Homo sapiens: one gene and its partners. The protein of the gene in region 2 interacts with the protein of the main gene of each other region in a pairwise test. Each region holds a gene or a part of one and is shown on either strand. Other genes may lie near its edges.

Region 1 (7,036 bases), on a different chromosome or scaffold from region 2:
GTGTGAGTGGCAGAAGCCACTGGTGTCTGAGCAGGGTGAGGGCCCGATGGGGCTGGGAGGACCTCCCTGCAGGCAGGGGAGAAAGGGCTATTAGAACCCAGGGTGAGGCCAGGCGAGGTGGCTCACACCTGTAATCCCAGCACTTTGGGAGGCCGAGGCATGCGGATCACCTGAGGTCAGCAGTTCAAGACTAGCCTGGTCAACATGGTGAAACCCCGTCTCTACTAAAAATACAAAATCAGCCGGGTGTAGTGGCGCATGCCTGTAATCCCAGCTACTCAGGTGGCTGGGGCAGGAGAATTGCTTGAACCTGGGAGGCAGAGGTTGCAGTGACCCGGGATTGTGCCACTGACTTCCAACCTGGGCGACAAGAGCAAGACTCTGTCTCAAAATAAAACAAAAAAAACAAAAAAACAAAAACACACAAAACACCCAGGCCTCCGCTCGCCTAAGACGACAGCGTTCAGTCCCGCAGATGCAGCTGTCAGTGTGGAAGGTTCTGGATTCTGTGGCACTGTTCATTCATTCGCTTGCTGACCAGGTGTTGTGCTAGGTGCTGAGGTCTGGCAGCCCGCTACCCTGCCCGCATCCATGGGTCACAGTTGTTGGGAAAAGTCCCAGCCAGGGCCAACGTCCTGGGGTTAACTGGGGTGCTGCTCACCTCCCTGATTTCCCAGAGCCCGTGCCTGCCCATGGGCCCACACAGCCCCCCATATGTGTCCCCCACCTAGTTTGCAGACCTGACAGACGCTGCTGCCCGCAACGCGGAGCTGCTCCGCCAGGCCAAGCACGAAGCCAACGACTACCGGCGCCAGTTGCAGTCCTTGACCTGCGACCTGGAGTCTCTGCGCGGCACGGTGAGCGCGGCCAGGGCAGGACGGGGACGGGCGGAGCAGGGACGGCCACCCCAGGAGATGCCAGGGGAGAAGGGCCAGGGACGAGGACCTGGGTCGAGGGCGGGGCCTGAACGTTACCCCCGGGCTAGAGGCGGGGCCTGGGGCCGGGGGCCGGGCCTCGAAACCTCCCCAAGTCGGGTCGGGGCTCCGCGGGACCGGCCGGCTCCATCCCACAGAACGAGTCCCTGGAGAGGCAGATGCGCGAGCAGGAGGAGCGGCACGTGCGGGAGGCGGCCAGTTATCAGGAGGCGCTGGCGCGGCTGGAGGAAGAGGGGCAGAGCCTCAAGGACGAGATGGCCCGCCACTTGCAGGAGTACCAGGACCTGCTCAATGTCAAGCTGGCCCTGGACATCGAGATCGCCACCTACAGGAAGCTGCTAGAGGGCGAGGAGAACCGGTGAGCCCTCATCACAGCCCCTGGGGAAGTCTCCCTGCTGCCTCACGGTAGAGCTCATCTTGCTCCCTTCAGGGACTGAGTCTTTTTCAGCCTTGTGTGCAGATCCCTTCCCACCTCAATGCCCAGCACAGTGCCTGCCTCACACATAGCAGGCAGTCACTAGATGTTTGATGACTGAATGGATGGATGGATTCAACCAATATTGATTAGGCCTCAAGGCCAAGGACTTGGGTCACCCTCCAAACTAAGAGGCATACTCCCCATCTTCCCAGCCAAGATTGGACTCCTCACCTCACCCATCTCTTCTGCCTCCTTGGAACTTTCTTCACCACTTTCCCCTCCCTTTTCCATCTTCCTTCAGATAGACATGCGCCCCTCCCAGATAACACTCAAGCCCCTTGCAGACGTTTGGAACTCCAGATAGCACGTTGGCTGCTGGGGAAAAAGCTAGGAGATGGAGTTAGACTTTCCTGGCAAGGAAAAGGGCGTTCAAGTTGTCATGATGGCCCCGCACCAAGACCCAGCCTAGGGGTGTCCCAGGCAGCCCGGGCAGCCCTCTCCCTCTGCTTTCTTTCAGGATCACCATTCCCGTGCAGACCTTCTCCAACCTGCAGATTCGAGGTCAGTACAGCAGGGCCTCGTGGGAAGGGCACTGGAGTCCTGCCCCCTCCTCCAGGGCCTGTAGGTTGCTCCAGACTGGGACTGAGGATCAGGGCAAAGGGATCCAGCTCTCCCTGGGGGCCTTCGTGACACTGCAGCGCTCCTAGCCAGAGCCTATCATACCAGGGTACTTCTAGGTGGGGCTTGCAGCTGCCCCTGTCCTGCTAGGCCCTGGTCCCTCTTCCCCTCCCTGCACCCCATTCGACAGCAGAACTGGGTGAGAGCTTGACATCTGCCCTGTCTGCAGATCCCTGAGCAAGCACTGCCCTTCTGAGTGTTTTCTGTTTTTGTTTTTTTAACTGCTTGTCACTACAGGGGGCAAAAGCACCAAAGACGGGGAAAATCACAAGGTCACAAGATATCTCAAAAGCCTCACAATACGAGTTATACCAATACAGGCTCACCAGATTGTAAATGGAACGCCGCCGGCTCGCGGTTAGCTGCCTGCCTCTCAGACACGGCGCTTTGCCCAGCTTGACAGGGAGTGAGCCTCACCCACCCCATCCTCCCAATCCCCCTGAGTTCCCTCTTCCCAGGCTTCCCCTAAAGGGCCTGGACTGCGTCATTTTCCCAGGAACTGCAGTGCCCAGCCCAGGACGTGGTACAGAGTAACTGTACATTAAACTGGCAGAGCTTGTTAGTGGTAAAGGTGGTGAGTCCTTGGGTGCGCAGTGGAGCTGCTCTGGGGCCTCTGAGCAAGCAGCAGCCTCTGTCTCACCTCTTCCTGTCACTGGGAGGGCCCCTTGGGTCTCGCTGTGCCTGGACGCCAGGCTCTCTGCTTTATTCTTTCATCCCTGAGGCTCCATCGCTCAGCTCAGTGCTGACTCAGTTCAGAGGATTCTTCCCTCAGGACCGCAGCTCTTGCAGTGAATAAAGTTTTATGTTCCCTGCTCTTAATGTTAAATATTAGTGAATGTGACGTGTTATATTTTTCTCTCTCGGGCGGGGCGGGGGGAGGGGGGAGCTAAATTACTTTTTACTTGCATTGGCCCTGAAATGATTCTTAGCTAAGGAACAAAATTCCTCTTCTTCTGGACTAGAATATTTAGGACCACTAGATATGCATGTCTCAGGACTTAATTCAGCATCAGAAAGGCTAACCAGGCTGACTAGTAGAGGTAATACTGCCAAATCCTAGATAGTCACAGGTCACTAAAGCACAGATAAATGGCAGAGAGAAGTAGGAAAGAGGAAAGGGGACAGGAAAGGGACCTATGTGTATTGAGCACTAATATGTGCCACATGTTTAACAGCCTTTATTTTAGTTAATTGTCTCCTCTCTCCCACCTAGAGAAGTAGGCCCCATCATCCTTATTTTACAGATGAGGAAACTGAGGCTGGGAGAGGTCAATTAACTTGCCCAGAGTCATGTGGCTGGTTGGTGGCTAAGTTGGGACTTCTTGAGCTCTGGTCTCCTGATCCTTCCTTCCTTCCTTCCTTCTTTTCTTCCTTCCTTCCTTCTTTCCTTCCTTCCTTCGGCAGAGCGTCCCTCTGTCACTCAGGCTGGAATGCAGTAGTGCAATCTTGGCTCACTGCAACCTCCACCTCCCAGGTTCAAGCAATTCTCGTGCCTCAGACTCCCGAGTAAGGGGATTACAGGTGCGAGCCACCACACCTGGCTAATCTTTCTTTTTCTTTCTTTCTTTCTTTCTTCCTTCCTTCCTTCCTTCCTTCCTTTCTCTTTCCTGCTTGCTTGCTTGCTTGCTTGCCTGCTTTCGACGGAGTCTTACTCTGTTGCTCAGGCTGGAGTGCAGTGGCACGATCGCAGCTTACTGCAACCTCCGCCTCCCAGGTTCAAGTGATTCTCCTCTCTCAGCCTCCTGAGTAGCTGGGACTACAGGCACCTGTCACCATGCCTGACTAATTTTTGTATTTTTAGTAGAGACAGGGTTTCACCATATTAGTCAGGCTGGTCTCAAACTCCTGACCTCAGGCGATCCACCTGCCTCGGCCTCCCAAAGTGCTGGGATTACAGGTGTGAGCCACCATGCCTGGCCTATTTTTTGTATTTTTAGTAGAGGTTTCACTATGTTGGCCAGGCTGGTCTCGAACTCCTGGCGTCAGGTGATCCACCTGCCTCAGCCTCCCAAAATGATGGCATTATAGGTGTGAGCCACCGCACCCCTCCTGGTCTCCTGATTTCAATACCGTGCTGGGTTTTCAGAAAGCCAGGTGCCAGGCCAGGGCTTGCAGAGGGGCTGAAATGAAGCCAGGCCAGAAGACAGAGCAGCCAGGACTCTGGCAGCAGCACTATTGGGATTTGGGGGCTCTCCAGCCCGTTTGGAAGAGCCTAGGCTCTCTCTGCTCGGTTGCATAGGTTCTCATACTCATGATGGGGAGGGGGGTGCGATGGGGAAGCCGGGCATGGGAGAGGATGGCTCATGCCCTGAAAGTCCATGAGAGGCCTCCTCTCCCCACATCTGCAGAAACCAGCCTGGACACCAAGTCTGTGTCAGAAGGCCACCTCAAGAGGAACATCGTGGTGAAGACCGTGGAGATGCGGGATGGAGAGGTAAGGAGGGATTTGGGCCCAGTCAGGCTCTGGCTGGCCCCAGGGATTCTCAAGGCCAGGCCATGGAGGAAAGCCTGGGGCTGGCACATAGAAGGTTCCCAGCAACTCCCAGTAGCTCCCCAGGGAATTCTGGAGGAGAGCAAGGAAACTGAATGTAATTCCGTTTCCTCAGTCCCTCCATAGGCTGTTCTAAGGGGAGCCTTGGTACCAAAGCCACTAGATGGGATCCTAATACACACTCTCTCTTTCTCACCCTCAAACTCGGGGGCCTTGCTTGCCAGGGAGAGAAAGAGAATTAAAGTTAGTAGCTTTCACTTCCAACTCTAGCAGACACAGTTGGGGATGGGGAGGGCTTTCCATTTCCAGCTTGGTAAAAGGAAACTACCAGGGGAATGGGAAGAGGGGATTTGGCGTATCCGCCACGCCACTCCAACCACAGTGGGAGCTCATCTTACTCCAGCAGCTTACCACTCGCCAGGCATGACGCTAAATGCTTTCCCAGTGTTATCTCACCACCCCCTCTGTCCACCACGCAAGGCAGCTGTGGTTACTATCAAGAAAAGTAAGACCTGGGAAGTCGGGGACTTCCCAAGGTTACACAGCCTCGTGGTGGTGGACCTGGGGTCTGTGTGAACTCCTAACTGTTGCACTGTGCACGTTCCCTGTCCCCTGCAGGTCATTAAGGAGTCCAAGCAGGAGCACAAGGATGTGATGTGAGGCAGGACCCACCTGGTGGCCTCTGCCCCGTCTCATGAGGGGCCCGAGCAGAAGCAGGATAGTTGCTCCGCCTCTGCTGGCACATTTCCCCAGACCTGAGCTCCCCACCACCCCAGCTGCTCCCCTCCCTCCTCTGTCCCTAGGTCAGCTTGCTGCCCTAGGCTCCGTCAGTATCAGGCCTGCCAGACGGCACCCACCCAGCACCCAGCAACTCCAACTAACAAGAAACTCACCCCCAAGGGGCAGTCTGGAGGGGCATGGCCAGCAGCTTGCGTTAGAATGAGGAGGAAGGAGAGAAGGGGAGGAGGGCGGGGGGCACCTACTACATCGCCCTCCACATCCCTGATTCCTGTTGTTATGGAAACTGTTGCCAGAGATGGAGGTTCTCTCGGAGTATCTGGGAACTGTGCCTTTGAGTTTCCTCAGGCTGCTGGAGGAAAACTGAGACTCAGACAGGAAAGGGAAGGCCCCACAGACAAGGTAGCCCTGGCCAGAGGCTTGTTTTGTCTTTTGGTTTTTATGAGGTGGGATATCCCTATGCTGCCTAGGCTGACCTTGAACTCCTGGGCTCAAGCAGTCTACCCACCTCAGCCTCCTGTGTAGCTGGGATTATAGATTGGAGCCACCATGCCCAGCTCAGAGGGTTGTTCTCCTAGACTGACCCTGATCAGTCTAAGATGGGTGGGGACGTCCTGCCACCTGGGGCAGTCACCTGCCCAGATCCCAGAAGGACCTCCTGAGCGATGACTCAAGTGTCTCAGTCCACCTGAGCTGCCATCCAGGGATGCCATCTGTGGGCACGCTGTGGGCAGGTGGGAGCTTGATTCTCAGCACTTGGGGGATCTGTTGTGTACGTGGAGAGGGATGAGGTGCTGGGAGGGATAGAGGGGGGCTGCCTGGCCCCCAGCTGTGGGTACAGAGAGGTCAAGCCCAGGAGGACTGCCCCGTGCAGACTGGAGGGGACGCTGGTAGAGATGGAGGAGGAGGCAATTGGGATGGCGCTAGGCATACAAGTAGGGGTTGTGGGTGACCAGTTGCACTTGGCCTCTGGATTGTGGGAATTAAGGAAGTGACTCATCCTCTTGAAGATGCTGAAACAGGAGAGAAAGGGGATGTATCCATGGGGGCAGGGCATGACTTTGTCCCATTTCTAAAGGCCTCTTCCTTGCTGTGTCATACCAGGCCGCCCCAGCCTCTGAGCCCCTGGGACTGCTGCTTCTTAACCCCAGTAAGCCACTGCCACACGTCTGACCCTCTCCACCCCATAGTGACCGGCTGCTTTTCCCTAAGCCAAGGGCCTCTTGCGGTCCCTTCTTACTCACACACAAAATGTACCCAGTATTCTAGGTAGTGCCCTATTTTACAATTGTAAAACTGAGGCACGAGCAAAGTGAAGACACTGGCTCATATTCCTGCAGCCTGGAGGCCGGGTGCTCAGGGCTGACACGTCCACCCCAGTGCACCCACTCTGCTTTGACTGAGCAGACTGGTGAGCAGACTGGTGGGATCTGTGCCCAGAGATGGGACTGGGAGGGCCCACTTCAGGGTTCTCCTCTCCCCTCTAAGGCCGAAGAAGGGTCCTTCCCTCTCCCCAAGACTTGGTGTCCTTTCCCTCCACTCCTTCCTGCCACCTGCTGCTGCTGCTGCTGCTAATCTTCAGGGCACTGCTGCTGCCTTTAGTCGCTGAGGAAAAATAAAGACAAATGCTGCGCCCTTCCCCAGAGTGGACTCTGATCTGTTCATGAGAGGGCGGGACTGGGGCCAAGATGTAGCCTTTGACAAGACCAACTCATTTCTTATTACTGATCATCTCTGGGGCCCATGCCCTCACCAAATTCCACCCGCAGCCAAAGA
Region 2 (7,036 bases):
TTCTGCAGGCTTTTGTTCCTTACTCTATTGCTATCTTCATTTGTTATTTGATTGTGGGCTTTTTTTTTTTTTTCTAATGGTTTGGTTTGATTTCTCTTTAGCATTTGTGTATTTACAATAGGTTTGCCCTTGTGGTTACAACTGTCTACTTTAATTTGATGTCTACTTTAATTTAATTTGAATTTAATTTAAATTCAATGGCCTACAAAACTCTGCACTTTTACCTACCATTACACTATGTGTTTTTGAAGTCAGAGTTTACTATTTTTCATACAGTGAATCCATTATCAATTTTTTGTCATTATACTTACCCTTAATACCTTTTTGTCTTTTAAGTCCCCTCCCCCACTCTACCTTAGTAACAGGATGCGGCTCTATTTCCCAGGCTGCAGTGCAATGGTGCAATCCTAGCTCACTGCAGCCTCAAACTCCCAGGTTCAAGCGATCCTTCTGCATCAGCCTCCCAGGTAGCTGGGACTACAGGTGCCTACCACCATAACTGATAATTTTTTTGTTGTTCCTTATTTTTGTAGAGATAAAGTCTTGCTATGTCGTCCAGGCTGGTGTGAGACACCTGGCCTCATGTGATCCTCCCACCTCAGCCTCCTAAAGTACTGGGATTACAAGTGTGAGTCACCACACACAGCCTTCTTTAAAGTTTTATATTGGGGTTACCAGTTATTTCTGTACCACCCTTACAGTATTATGTTATTCTATATTTGACTGTACATTTACTCCTGAGCTTTACATACTTTCCTTCATACGCTTTTACATTGGTGTTTATCATTTTTTCTATTCCATTTAAAGAACTCCATTAGCATTTCTTCTCAGGCAAGCCTAGTGATGACAAACTCCCTCAATTTTCATGTGTCTGGGAAAGACTTTATCTCCTTTCCATTTTTAAGGATAGCTTTCCAGGGTATAGTAATCATGGCTGGCAGGGTTTTGTTTTTTTCTTTCAGTACTTTGAATGTAACATCCCATTATCTCCTAGCCTGGAAGATTCATGTTGAGAAATTCACTGATCATTTCTGGGGTGGGGGGTGGTGGGGGGGCAGGTTTCCCTTGTATGAGATGAGTTGCCTTTCTCTTGCAGCTTTCAAAATTCTGTCTCTTGAGTTTTGACAATTTAATTATAATAAGTCTTGATGTAGACTTCTTTAACTGTTGTGGGGTTCTATGAGCTTGAGTCTGGATATCTGTTTTGTTCTCCATATTTAGGAAGTTTTGGGTTATTTCTTTAAAAAAAAAAAGGCTTTCTGCCTGCTTCTCTTCAATCCCTATAATGCATATATTCATTCAATGACAGTGTCCCATAAATCCCAGAGGCTTCCTTCATTTTTTTCATTCTTTTCTCTCCTCTTACTGGGTAATTCCAAATGACCTGTTTTCAAGTTCTCTTGATTCTTTCTTCTGCTTCACTGAGTCTGTTGCTGAAGCTCTCTACTGCATTTTCTAGTTTCTTCAGTGTATTCTTCACCTCTAGAATTTGTTTGGTTCTTTCTCACGGCTTCACTTTCTTGATGTTCTCATTTTGTTTTTATGTTGTTTTCCTGATTTTGTTACATTATTTATCTGTGTTCTCTCACCGTTCACTGACCTTCAACAGTTATTTTGAATATTTTGTCAGGGACTTCATGGATCTTCATTTGTTTGGGTTGCTTGCTGGATATTTATTGTGTTCTCTTGGTGGTATCAAGTTTTCCTGATTTTTCATGTTCTTTGTATCCTTGCATTGCTGTCTATGCACTTAAAGAAGCAGTCACCTTCTCCAGTCTTTATGGACTGGCTTCAGAAAGGATAGTCAATTGCTCAGATGGGAGCAATGACTTGTGGGGAATGCAGGAGCATACTGTTGCACTAAGCCTACTGGCACACAGAGTGCCAAAGTGCGGGGAAGTACAACAACTCTTGGTTTATATGTATGCATTGGCGTGGCAGCTCAGGGAGCTAGAGTTGGCAATATCAGTAACAGGGCAGTCCTCAGCTCCAAAAGCTACAGGGTGTAGGCAGTGGCTGCCAGCAGCACCTCTGTGTTAAGAAGTGAGCATCCCTGGTAGGTGGGAGCCAAGGCAGGTCGTGGCAGAGGCCAGGTGGAGTTTGGTTGCAGGCATACATGTGGCAATGGGGGCCATGGCCAGCTGTGGCCATGTGTGTGCATGGCTATTTGGCCCACTGCATATGGACATGGATTGACAACAACTGTGGGACAGGGCAGTAGCTTGCATTCCTCTAGCTGAAGGAGTTGGCTGCAGATACATAAACAGAAGTAAAAACCAGAGCCAAGAGCAAGGACCAGGGCTGGCCATGGGCAAACACACTACAAACTGATAGTCTTAGGCTCCAAATTGTCCTACCAGGTCATTCTACACTTTAGACAAACCTCCCCAAGGAAACCCTCCAATGAAAACGGCAAAAGTAGAGCTTTAATAATCCACGCAAACCCTGCAAAATATCAATTTACTAGATAATTTGAAAATGACGATTTTTTAATAGTTAACCTTCTTGGATTCAATAGATTAAAATGCTTTTATTTCCTAGCAAATCTAATTATTTTTATGGTTATTTTAGCTTCTCTCAGACCAGAAGTAGAGTTGAAAATAAGCCCAGCAACTTCAGACTATCATAATTTCCTAAAAAATAAAAACTCACCCTTTCTAACAATTTCTGAAGCTTCAATGTTTTCTCTTCGCGTAACTTTTCCCTTAGCTGCTGTGCTTTCATTTGTTTTTCTTCATGTTTCTTCTTAGATTCTGCAATTGTTCTATTAATACAAACAAATGGACAAGAGACATGAAATGTTTACATGATAAGGCCAGAAAAAGTGTTCTTTAGACTTCATAGTTCTTAAAGTATACAAAACTAATTTTGGCCCAACATTTCGGGAAAGCTTTGTTACTTTTCAATGGATCTGAAACTGTCCTGAAGTAATGTGTCCAAAAATGCCACGTAGCAATTTTATTTAACAGTCAAGAGTGGCTAGTTTCCTTGCTGTGAACCATTTCAAATTAATTTTCAAATGCCAGACCTTTTACGAGAGGGTGAAGAAAGTTTTTCATGCATGTGAATTCCATGCCCTGGAGGTCTAGCAGGTTCTTCTTCTACAATGTCCCCCCAGGATGTATTTTGGCGCCAAGACTCACGAGCTGTTCAGAAAAAAATACTATTATTGTTTAGCCACATAGGTCTATAAAACATTTGAGAACAAACTTTTGAACACTGTACTACACACCCAATATGCATATACACAATACCTTCATAATCTGCAAGGACATCGTTCCAGTCCATGGACATACCACAGAAAGAAACACTCCCACTGCCCATGCTGGCCTAAAATGTAATAAGGGAAGTTGAAAATCAAATCTTTGAACACAATTACAACTTTAGAAAATGAACTATACATGAAAATGTCCTACCTATTGTTAATATATTCTATTTAACCAACAGTTGAAAACCAGGAAAAAGGTACCTACCAGTACAATCAAAATAATTGCCAAGTTAAAATACTACAGCCTATTCATTTTAAGAGCCTAGCAGCCATTAACAGCAGAGACAAATGAAGTAAATTTAAGAAATATATTGGCCTTATCCTATTACTACATAAATGCTAACATATAAAAAGCAAATATTGAAGAATTGAAGATTGTTTGGCATTAAAATTTAATAAACCAATATGTAAAACATTTAAAGTTATTTTATTCTTTAACAAATTCCCATCATTAACATATATATCCTAAGCACTTAGTAACAGAAGGTAGTGTATCATTTGCTCATTTATTTATTTATTTATTTATTTATTTATTTTTAAGATGGAGTCTCACTCTGTCGCCCAGGCTGGAGTGCAGTGGCACGATCTCAGCTCACTGCAACCTCCGCCTCCCGGGTTCAAACTATTCTCCTGCCTCAGCCTCCCAAGTAGCTGGGACTACAGGCACCTGCCACCACGCCCAGCTAATTTTTGTATTTTTAGTAGAGATGGGGTTTCATCATATTGGCCAGGCTGGTCTCGAACTCCTCACCTTGTGATCCACCTGATTCGGCCTCCCAAAGTGCTAGGATTACAGGCATGAGCCACCACACCCAGCCTACTTTTTGTTAATAGAATACAAAAGTAAAATACCTTAGCTTCATCTTCACTTTCTATAAATTATAATCTCAGTAATGTGGAGTTCTTACTTTATGTCAGACTCAATTTTTTAACTTTTTTTTAATAGAGACGGGGTTTTGCTATGTTGCCCAGGCTGGTCTCGAACTCCTATCCTTGACCAATCCTACCGCCTTGGCCTCCCAAAGTGCTGGGATTACAGGCATGTGGCACCACAACCGGCCCAGACTCAATTTCTTGACTGGTAAAATAACAATAACAACTTCTAACTTGTCAACTGTATCATACATGAAAATAGTAATGGTAAAGTGCTAACAAAAGATTTGCTATTGTTTATTGTGTAAGTCTAAATCACCCTGAGAATAATAGTTATGATTACTGAACATGATTTTTAAATAAATAATTCTAAATAGGACTAGATGGACTCCAAGTCTTTCTGGCCCAGATAATTTTGTTTCTAAATATAAATTTTGAATAGTTATGTTAAAAAGTCTAAAAGCTCACAGAAAAATCACTGTCGTTGTCAGTTTCAATGTTAATATCATTGTTTTCTTCAGCTTCAATTTCTCTAGTTAACTGTTCTTCTTCAGCAATAGCACTAGCAATGGCTTCTTCATTGGCCTTTTCTAGACGATCTGCTAGCTCTTCTTTTTTAGCAAGGACTTCTGCCATGGACTATAAAGTTAAAAACACATAAACAAAAAGAAAAATGATCACTTGACTGGAAAGTAATCATTTTTTATGTTCTAACATGAACTCAACAGTATACATAAAATTGTATTGATCTAGAATCATAAAAGCTGGGGTTCCATACAGGCTCATCCACTTACTAGCTGTGTGCCTTAGAAGCTTCTAAAAACCAAGAACCTACTTGGTATTCCATAAAATGGAACAATAATCAATGACTTGCCTTATTTACCAGACAGCTACGTATGAGAAACTGTGAAATTATATAAATAACAGGTAGTGTGAATTTCATTTGAGTGCCAAAATTCAAAACAATTATAGATTGAATATACTCATTAAATATAAAACCGAAATAGTATACTATAATGGGAACATGGAAAGAATATATGCTGTACTGGTGATGATGCTTTCTGAACATACATACACCTAACTTTAAAAAATGCACTGCAAATAATAAAAATATACATGAGATTCATTAATTAATAAATCCTCATGAGAAGCTAAAGATGTATACTAGAAACCCTAAATCAAACACTGAAATAACAAAACAAACATGTGGTTAATAAGCCATCAAAGGTGATAAAATGAAATTATTAAAAAATTAAAAATGGAAGGAAGAACACAAGTCAGAGAAAACAAATAGTAAAATGGTGGATTTAAACAAACTATGTCAATAATTATATTACATGTAAATGTTAACATGTAATAGGCAGAGATTATCAAACTGGATAAAAAATAAGACTGAGCTATATGTTTCCTAGAAGGAAAAAAACAGATTACAAGTAAAAGGTCTATGCTAATTAAAAGAAAGCTGAAGTATTAACATCAGACACAGATTTCAGTGCAAAAAATATCACCAGGAATAAAGAAGACCAATTTATAATAATAAAAGGGTCAATTCATCAAGACGACAAAACAGTCCTAAATGTTTATAGACCTAACAGAACTTCAAAATATATAAGGCAAAAACCTATAGAAATGCAAAAAAATATAAACCTAATGAGAATGTAAAATGATGCAACCACTTTGGAAAGCAGTCTGACAGTTGCTCAAATGGTTAAACATAGAGTTCATATAACCCAACAATTCCACTCCTAGATATATATCCAGGAGAAATAAAAAATGTGCCCACACAAAAACTGTTATGCAAATACTTAAAGCAGTGCTATTCATAATAGCACAGTGGAAACAACCTAAATGTCCATCAACTGATGAATAAATAAAATGTGGTATATTCATTCATTCAGTGGACTATACTATTTGATCACAAAAAAGAACAAAGTACTGAGACAAACTAAGACATGAATGAACCTCTAAAATATGCTAAGAAGTCAGTCACAAATGACCACATATTGCATTTCATTTCTATGAAATGTCTAAAATAGGCAAAATTATATAGAGAGAAAGCAGTGCAGTGGCAGGTGTGGGAGGAGTGAAAGGGAGTAACTGCTAATGGGCACTGGGTTTTCTTTTTAGAGTGATGAAAGAGTGCTAAAGCTGATTATGGAGAATATACTAAAAAACAACAGTAAACTTCAAACAGATGGATTGTATTATACGTAAATTATGATCTCAATACAGTCGTTAGAAAAGAAATAGATCCACAGTTACAGTCAGTGATTTCAGTACCCCTCTTTCAACTGACAGAAAAAGTAACCAAAAAACTAGCAAGGATATAGAAGACCTGAACAATACTATCAACAAAATTGATCTAGGTATTTTCTCAAAAAAAAAAAAAAATATATATATACATGTTCACATAAAGTTGTACACAAAAACGTTCGTGGCATCTTTATTCATTAAAGAAAGATGTAATTCAAATGTCTTTGGGCAAGTGAATGAACAAACATTGTGTTACATGGATAAATCTCAAAATAAATATGTTGAGTGAAAGAAGTCAAGCAAAGCTTACACAATTCAATTTATATAAAACTATCATCAGAGTGAACAGGCAACCTACAGAATGGAGAAAATTTTTGCAATCTACCCATCTGACAAAGGGTTAATATCCAGAATCTATAAAGAACTTAAACAAATTTACAAGAAAAAAACAAACAACCTGGCCAGGCGTGGTGGCTCACACCTGTATCCCAGCACTTTGGGAGGCCGAGGCGGGTGGATCACGAGGTCAGGATATCGAGACCAGCCTGGCTAACATGGTGAAACCCCGTTTCTACTAAAAAATACAAAAAATTAGCCAGGCGTGGTGGCAAGCGCCTGTAGTCCCAGCTACTCGGGAGGCTG
Region 3 (7,036 bases), on a different chromosome or scaffold from region 2:
CTCATTTTCTTCATCTTTAAAATGAAAGGTTCAGAGTCAATGAATTCCCAGGGCCCCTTCCCCTAACATGTCACTAGGGGCTCTTACCCAGTGGTTATATAATGGCAAGAAGGTACCACTGCCTGGCTGGGCCGGGGGACAGGAAGATGAGGTGAATGGCAAGCCAGCCACTCACCTGCAAGAAGTCAGTCATGCCTTGGAGAAAGGCAGGGACACCAGGCATCGCCACAGTGATGGTGGGAGAAGCCACACCAGACCCTCCAGCCCCTGGCCCTGCAGGCCCTAGCAGGTTCCCCAGAAGCTGAGAGAACTGAAGATCAGCCATGGAGGGTTGAGGGGTGGGTGGAGGCTGGGCAGGCCCCCCAGGAGCGGGGCCAGCTGTGGTAGCTGTGTTGGTGGTGCCAGCACTGGCAGAAGCAGTGGCAGGGGCTGGCGGTGGAGCCATACCTGGGGTCCCCTGAGCTGTAAGAAACCAAAAAAAGAAAGCTGGGCTGAGCATGGTGGCTCTTGGCTGTAATCCTAGCAACTTTGGGAGGCCAAGGCATGAGAACTGCTTGAGCCCAGGAGTCTAGGCCACATAGCAAGACCCCATCTCTACCAGAAAAAAAAAAAGACAATTACTAGCCAGGAGCTAGTACTGCTAGCTACTCAGGAGGCTGAGGTGGGAGAACTGTTTGAGCCCAGGAGTTCAAGGTTACAGTGAGCTTTAACTCACTGGATTGCACCATTGCACTCCAGTCTGGGTGACAGAGCAAGACTCTGTAACTTAAAAAAAAAAGAAAAAAGCTGGCCGGGCACGATGGCTCAAGCCTGTAATCCCAGCACTTTGGGAGGCCAAGGTGGGTGGATCACAAGGTCAAGAGTTCGAGACCATCCTGGCCAACATGGTGAAACCCCCTTCTCTACTAAAAACATAAAAAATTAGCTGGGCGTGGTGGCGTGCACCTGTAGTCCCAGCTACTCAGGAGGCTGAGGCAGGAGAATCACTTGAACCCGGGAGGCAGAGGTTGCAGTGAGCCAAGATTGTACACTGCACTCCAGCCTAGCAACAGAGTGAGACTCCATCTCAAAAAAAAAAAAAAAAAAAAAAAAAGCTGAAACCTGAAGACACAAGACACTACAGCAGCCCCATTCCAGGAAAGCAGGAACCAAGAAAATATGGAAAGAACTGGAAAGTGCCAGTGAGCAGACTAGGAAAGGAGTTTAAACTCTGAGTGGGGAAGAATGAAAACTCACCCACAAGGACTGGCTGCATAAGAAGCTGCCCCACAAGGCCGCTCACCATCTGGGCCAACGAGGCATTGGTACCCAGACCGGCGCCCTGCTGGATAGAGAGCAAGGGAGAATTTCAGACCTGCCCTTCCATGCACCACCACAGGAGTCTCTCCCTAGACTGTTACGCACTAGAACTCCCCGACCCTTGCTCACCAGTGTCCCAGAGACTGGGGGCCCTCCAGGATGGGAAGGCCGAGCCTGTGGAGGAGTGGGCCGGGCAATCACCACCCGGGTTGGAGCTGTTGGGAAGCCTGGCACCTGCTGTCCTGTGGGTGGCAGAAGAGACAGACCGAAGAGGGCTGAGGGCCAGGCCCTTGCCAGCCAGCTGCCACCATGGACTGTGCCCTACCTCCCAAGCCTCCCCTTCCAGGTCATTACCTGCGGCCGCGGAGGCAACAGCTGCCACCATGGCCTGATGAGTGATCTGGTGGGCGACGGCGTGCATGAACTCAGGGGGCAGGGAGGGCAGCTGGATGAGGGTGGAGCCTGGGGGGCGGGTCTGATGTAACCTTGAACCTGGACCCCTTCAACCCACCCACTCAGCCCTTCCCTTTCTCTACCCAGAGCTCAGCCTGCCCTGATGCCCTCACTCTTACCCAGGGTTTGGCCATGACCAGGGGGTCCCAGGGGGCCAGTGGGAGCACTCGGAACACCACCAGGCTGTGTGCCAGAATCTGGGCAGGGAGACAGAGACAGTGGCCCTGAGGTAGGTAGGGCCAAGGCCTAACTATATCCTTCTGAGATCAGGCATACTTCAGGCCCATAATCCCCCAATCAGAAAGCCTGCCTTTCCCTCCATCTAAACAGGGAGAGGTACTCCCTTCACCACACAAACACACCTCCAAAGACAAACCAACCCCCACACCCCCCACATCTGTCTACTTAAGCTTCTGCTCTGGTCCCCAGGCTACCACCACCAGCATGTGCCTCTCCCTTCCCCACCCTGTTCCCTCACACCTCAGCATGAACCTCCCTCATCATGCTGATCCTGCTCTTCTCGCCAGCAACTATTCTCACCTTGAATGTTCATGTGCATCATGACCACGGGTTCCACACTCTGGTGGGAAATCCGGATGACCCTCGGGTGGCTGGTGGCTGGCGGGGGAGCTGGACCTGGCGGGGGAGCCCCCTCAGCTGAGGACTCGACATTGGTAGAAGACGGAGCCACGGATGAGGCCTGCCCAGGACCAGGGGGAGGTGCCTCTGCATTGGGAGTTGGGGGGGGCCGAGTCCCATTTCCTGTCATGGTCACAGTGGTTCCCACATTGATCTGAAAAAGACAGATGGACAGGCAGATGTGAGAAAAATACAAGAGCCTAACCAAGAAAACCTCATGATAAACCTCTAAAGTATCTCCAGCCTTCATCACCATGTTTCCAGTCTCCTCCTTTCCTAACCTCCTTCAGGCCCAGTAGCTACCCTGGGTCACTCTATCAACACCCCTCACTCTCCCTCAGGCCAGACTCCCCCTAACCCACCTGTATGGGAATGGCTGCCTGCTGGAGCACCATGGGGGTGGTGTAGTGAGACATAGGCCGGACCACATGCAGGTGTCGTGGGGGCGTGCAGGCCAGATTGCAGCGCAGGTCAGACAGTGCAACAAAGGTGTTGCCCAGCAGTCGCAGGCTCTCCCCTACCAAGTTGATCAACCGCTGATCCTCCTCCCGGCCCTCGTGCTGCGCACAACCAGCCAAACACAAAAAGGCAGAAAATATCAAGCTGGAGTCCATCTCACTAATAAAAGCAATAATGCCTACTGAGAATACCATGTCCTCCAAAACTTTCAGTTATATCCTTGGAAGTTTACATGTAGACCAAATCTTTGCAAATAAATTATATCTTATTCACATAAGGAACATCCTATTAAAACACTACTATGAATCAGTAAGTCATCATATACTGATCTCCTGTACTTTACATTTTCTAAATTCATTCAGGGGCACAAGGGGTACGATACGAGGACAGTGCTTACAGCAAAGATTATCACCTTCTCTGTAAGGGAGGACAAAATCACTTACAGGTTTAGAGAGAAATTGTTTTGTTGCAATGTGTGTTTTTTTGTTTTGTTTTGTTTTTTGAGACAGTCTCGCTCTGTCACCCAGGCTAGAGTGCAGTAGTGCAATCTCGGCTCACTGCAACCCCCTCCTCCCGAGTTCTAGCGATTCTCCTGCCTCAGCCTCCTGAGTAGCTGGGATTACAGGTGTGCACCACTACATCCAGCTAATGTTTATATTTTCAGTAGAGATGGGGTTGCACCATGTTGGCCAGGCTGGTCTCAAACTCCCAATCTCAGATGATCCGCCCACCTTGGCCTCCCAAAGTGCTGGGATTACAGGCGTGAGCCACTGCACCTGGCCCTGTTGCAATGTTTTTCCAGGGAGGGAAAGAGTTATCTGCATTTCAGCCTGTTCTGTTTTGGGAGTACTGGGGCTGAGGAGAAAGGGCAGGGCCATCAAAGGGCTCACATTGTTATTGTAGTCCGTGGTGGCAGCAGCACCCAGAACCTCGTAGTAGCGCTGCAAGAAGGGCTGGAGGCGACTCTCCAGCCGCTGTAGCTCCTGGAGCACCTCGACATACTCCGCAGGGGAAGGATGGCTGTGGACAAACCCAAGGGGCAATGAGCCAAAGCCTTCCTCAGATTCCCACCCTCACAGTCAACAGGGACCACATGTGCCCTCTTTCTCCCTGGTCTCCCAGAGCCCTGGCCCAATCCTTCTCTGGACCAGCAGAGCTTCTATTCTCTTCAACCTCCGCCTCCCAGGTTCAAACGATTCTCCTGCCTCTGCCTCCCAAGTAGCTGGGATTAAGTTGCCTGCCACCACACCCGGCTAATTTTTGTTTTTTTTTTTTTTTTTTTTTTTTTGAGACAGAGTCTCGCTCTATCACCCAGGCTGGAGTGCAGTGGTGCGACCTCAGCTCACTGCAAGCTCCGTCTCCTGGGTTCACACCATTCTCCTGACTCAGCCTCCCGAGTAGCTGGGACTACAGGTGCCCGCCACCATGCCCAGCTAATTTTTTGTATTTTTAGTAGAGACGGGGTTTCATCATGTTAGCCAGGATAGTCTCGATCTCTTGACCTCATGATCCACCCGCCTCGGCCTCCCAAAGTGCTGGGATTACAGGCGTGAGCCACTGTGCCCGGCCTGTATTTTTTAGTAGAGACAGGGTTTCACCATGTTGGCCAGGCTGGTCTCGAACTCCTGACCTCAGGTGATCTGCCCGCCTCTGCCTCCCAAAGTGCTGAGATTACAGGCATGAGCCACTGCACCCAGCCAAAGCTTCTATTCTTTACTCCCACCCATGAGAGGATAGGGAGAAGAAAATGAACTGCTCCCACCCTCCCCACCACAATCCTGCACCTACAATGGTGAAAGACTAATTCTAAGAAAGAGAGCAGGCCTTCGTGAACTCAGAGGAGAATTCCGATCAGGCTCAGGAGATACCATTTGGATTTCCTTGCCGTAGGGAGAGCAGCAGTTCTTCTCAGCTGCCTGTCCTAGCGTCATTTACCTATACCGAGAGAGCCCCTCCTCGCCCCTCAATGCTAACCCTTCAACTAAGACCTCCAAGTAATCCTTTCCCTCCCTTGCCATGGTTCATTTCCTTCTCCCCATACTTCACTTAGGATTCCCCACCCACTAAAGATTCCCTCCATCTCTCACTTGGGTGCATTTGTTTCCGGGGCAGGTGTTGGGCCCGCTGGGGCTGGGCCAGGAGTGAGCTCCGGGTTCTGGGCTGGGGCACGCTCCTCCACTTCTTCTGCCTCCATGGGCTCCCGGGGAGGTGCTTCACTTTCAACTGGTTCTGATGTTTGAGAGCTCAAGGCTACTGGCTCCGGGGTCACAGCCGGTGGCTGCGGGGGCGGCTGACTGTGCTGCGGTTGGGGCCCTCCTCGACACTGAAGGTAGGGGAGAGTCAGGATACCAAAGGCAGGGTAAGACTGCTGCAGAGGATTACTCTACAGGAGACTGAACAGAGAAAGTATCCTAACTAGACTCCCTGAAGGCATGGCTCTGCAATTTTATCTCCGACTCGCTAGCAACTAGCATAAGACTGACACAAATTAGATGCATAATAAGCATCTGTAATTTTTTTTTTTTTTTTTGAGACAGAGTCTCGCTCTGTTGCCCAGGCTGGAGTGCAGTGGCATGATCTCAGCTCACTGTAACCTCCGCCTCCCAGGTTCAAGAAATTCTCTTGCCTCAGCCTTCTAAGTAGCCAGGCCTACAGGCGCGTGCCACCACACCCAACTAATTTTTGTACTTGTAGTAGAGACAGGGTTTCACCATGTTGGCCAGGCTGGATTGGAACTCCTGACCACACGTTATCCCCCTGCCATGGCGACCCAAAGTGCTGGGATTACAGGCAGGAGCCACCACACCCGGCCACAGCATCTGTAATATTTGTAAATAAATTTCTAACAAAGAGTAGAGATTGTGGTTTCCTTTCCTCCACAAGTTGGTTTCCCAGCCTCCACAAGTTAAGAGAGTAGAATCCTTTAATTGAAAAGAGATGCCATGAGACTAAGTCTGAAACAAACTCCCCAGATACCAGGCACCAAGAGGATTGGCAGAAATGAGAGAGCCTCACAAAGATACTTTTTCTGCCCAAAAGAATGAATACTGCAGAGAAGACTAGATTATGAAGGCCAAACCCTGTGGATGTGGCCAGTGAAGCCCTAACTCCCAGGCTGAGAGAAAAGGGAGAGGGAGGGTGGAGAGAGACCCTAGCCAGCCTTGCCCACTTACCTCCATCCGGGATAGTAAGGTCTGTATATCCCTGATCATGTGCTGAGCCATCACCAGCCGTACCCGGGGCTCACTCTACAATGAGAGAAGGTTTATCAGGGTAGGTTACAGATGAAGCCATGAGTTCTACCACCTACTAAATCAGGTCCCAGCCATCTCTCAGCCAGGTCCACCCCACCTCCCAGCCTCCTTCTCCCAGATCCCCTTCCCTGACCCTCGGAGGCCCCTCAATACCTGAATCGGGGCCTGTTCCATGTTGATGTGAACATCCACAGCAGAGCCGTCACTCTGGGGAAAGGGTAAGGGAAGTTGTTCTGGGAGAAGCCAACACTAAGGCCTCCACACCTCCAATTCATTCCCTGGAGCCCTACCTCCTTTTCTCCTTAAAGACTGAGACCAATAGCACACCACAGGGCCCCCTGAACCCAATCTAAAGATGGAAGCATCTATCTTATTAATTCCCTGGTGCTACCACAACCAAAGCTACCCACAAAAGCCCTCCCCTGTGGAACATAAGCTTACAGGAAGATTGAAGGTTCCAACCATGACATAGCTGTTGGCATTCCGGTCATGAACAGAGGCCCCAGGCCCCCGAGTACCAGGGGGGGATCCCCCACCATGAGTGGCTGAGGCAGACCCCGTCCCAGAAGATGCCCCAGAAGGGAGGTGAGTCTGAGGAGGAGCCCGTTCCACCAGGTGGATAACCTTTCCCCCAACATCTGCAGAAAAATAGACACACACCAAAACATAGTATGAACAGGTAAACCCATGGCCTCAGTTCATCCCTCCAGACAGTAGCCCCAACCTCTGAACTGCCTCCCCAGCCCCCTTACTGTATTCCTGAAGCTTCTTATCATCTTGCAGAACTCGTCCCTGGTAAATGAGCCGTTGTTTTTCAGATGGGATGCTGACAGAGGCAGCAATGTGCTCCTTAAACTCTTTTACATTCATCTGAAAAGAAGAGGCATGCACAGGAATGGAAAGAATGGAGGAAAGAGGAAGAACAAAGACAG

The links. The genes of interacting proteins can lie anywhere in the genome.
Region 1: the proteins of SCAPER (region 2) and GFAP interact in binary tests that used the Homo sapiens proteins (3 or more experiments, as listed by UniProt).
Region 3: the proteins of SCAPER (region 2) and BAG6 interact in binary tests that used the Homo sapiens proteins (3 or more experiments, as listed by UniProt).

Annotation. Positions count from the first base shown.
Region 1 is NC_000017.11:44,905,493-44,912,528, reverse strand, and holds part of GFAP (glial fibrillary acidic protein), read left to right. Parts: intron 1-731; coding exon 732-857; intron 858-1,072; coding exon 1,073-1,293; intron 1,294-1,870; coding exon 1,871-1,914; coding exon of another isoform or gene 1,915-2,060; exon of another isoform or gene 2,061-2,268; coding exon of another isoform or gene 2,269-2,393; exon of another isoform or gene 2,394-2,857; intron 2,858-4,379; coding exon 4,380-4,465; intron 4,466-5,140; coding exon 5,141-5,182; 3' UTR 5,183-7,036.
Region 2 is NC_000015.10:76,762,309-76,769,344, forward strand, and holds part of SCAPER (S phase cyclin A-associated protein in the endoplasmic reticulum), read right to left. Parts: intron 4,781-7,036; coding exon 4,610-4,780; intron 3,331-4,609; coding exon 3,255-3,330; intron 3,147-3,254; coding exon 3,029-3,146; intron 2,765-3,028; coding exon 2,653-2,764; intron 1-2,652. UniProt on the Homo sapiens protein: CCNA2/CDK2 regulatory protein that transiently maintains CCNA2 in the cytoplasm.
Region 3 is NC_000006.12:31,642,654-31,649,689, forward strand, and holds part of BAG6 (large proline-rich protein BAG6), read right to left. Parts: intron 6,975-7,036; coding exon 6,857-6,974; intron 6,743-6,856; coding exon 6,546-6,742; intron 6,312-6,545; coding exon 6,258-6,311; intron 6,099-6,257; coding exon 6,024-6,098; intron 5,174-6,023; coding exon 4,938-5,173; intron 3,871-4,937; coding exon 3,741-3,870; intron 2,952-3,740; coding exon 2,754-2,951; intron 2,546-2,753; coding exon 2,293-2,545; intron 1,977-2,292; coding exon of another isoform or gene 1,950-1,976; coding exon 1,872-1,949; intron 1,762-1,871; coding exon 1,654-1,761; intron 1,542-1,653; coding exon 1,429-1,541; intron 1,325-1,428; coding exon 1,237-1,324; intron 463-1,236; coding exon 176-462; intron 1-175. UniProt on the Homo sapiens protein: ATP-independent molecular chaperone preventing the aggregation of misfolded and hydrophobic patches-containing proteins.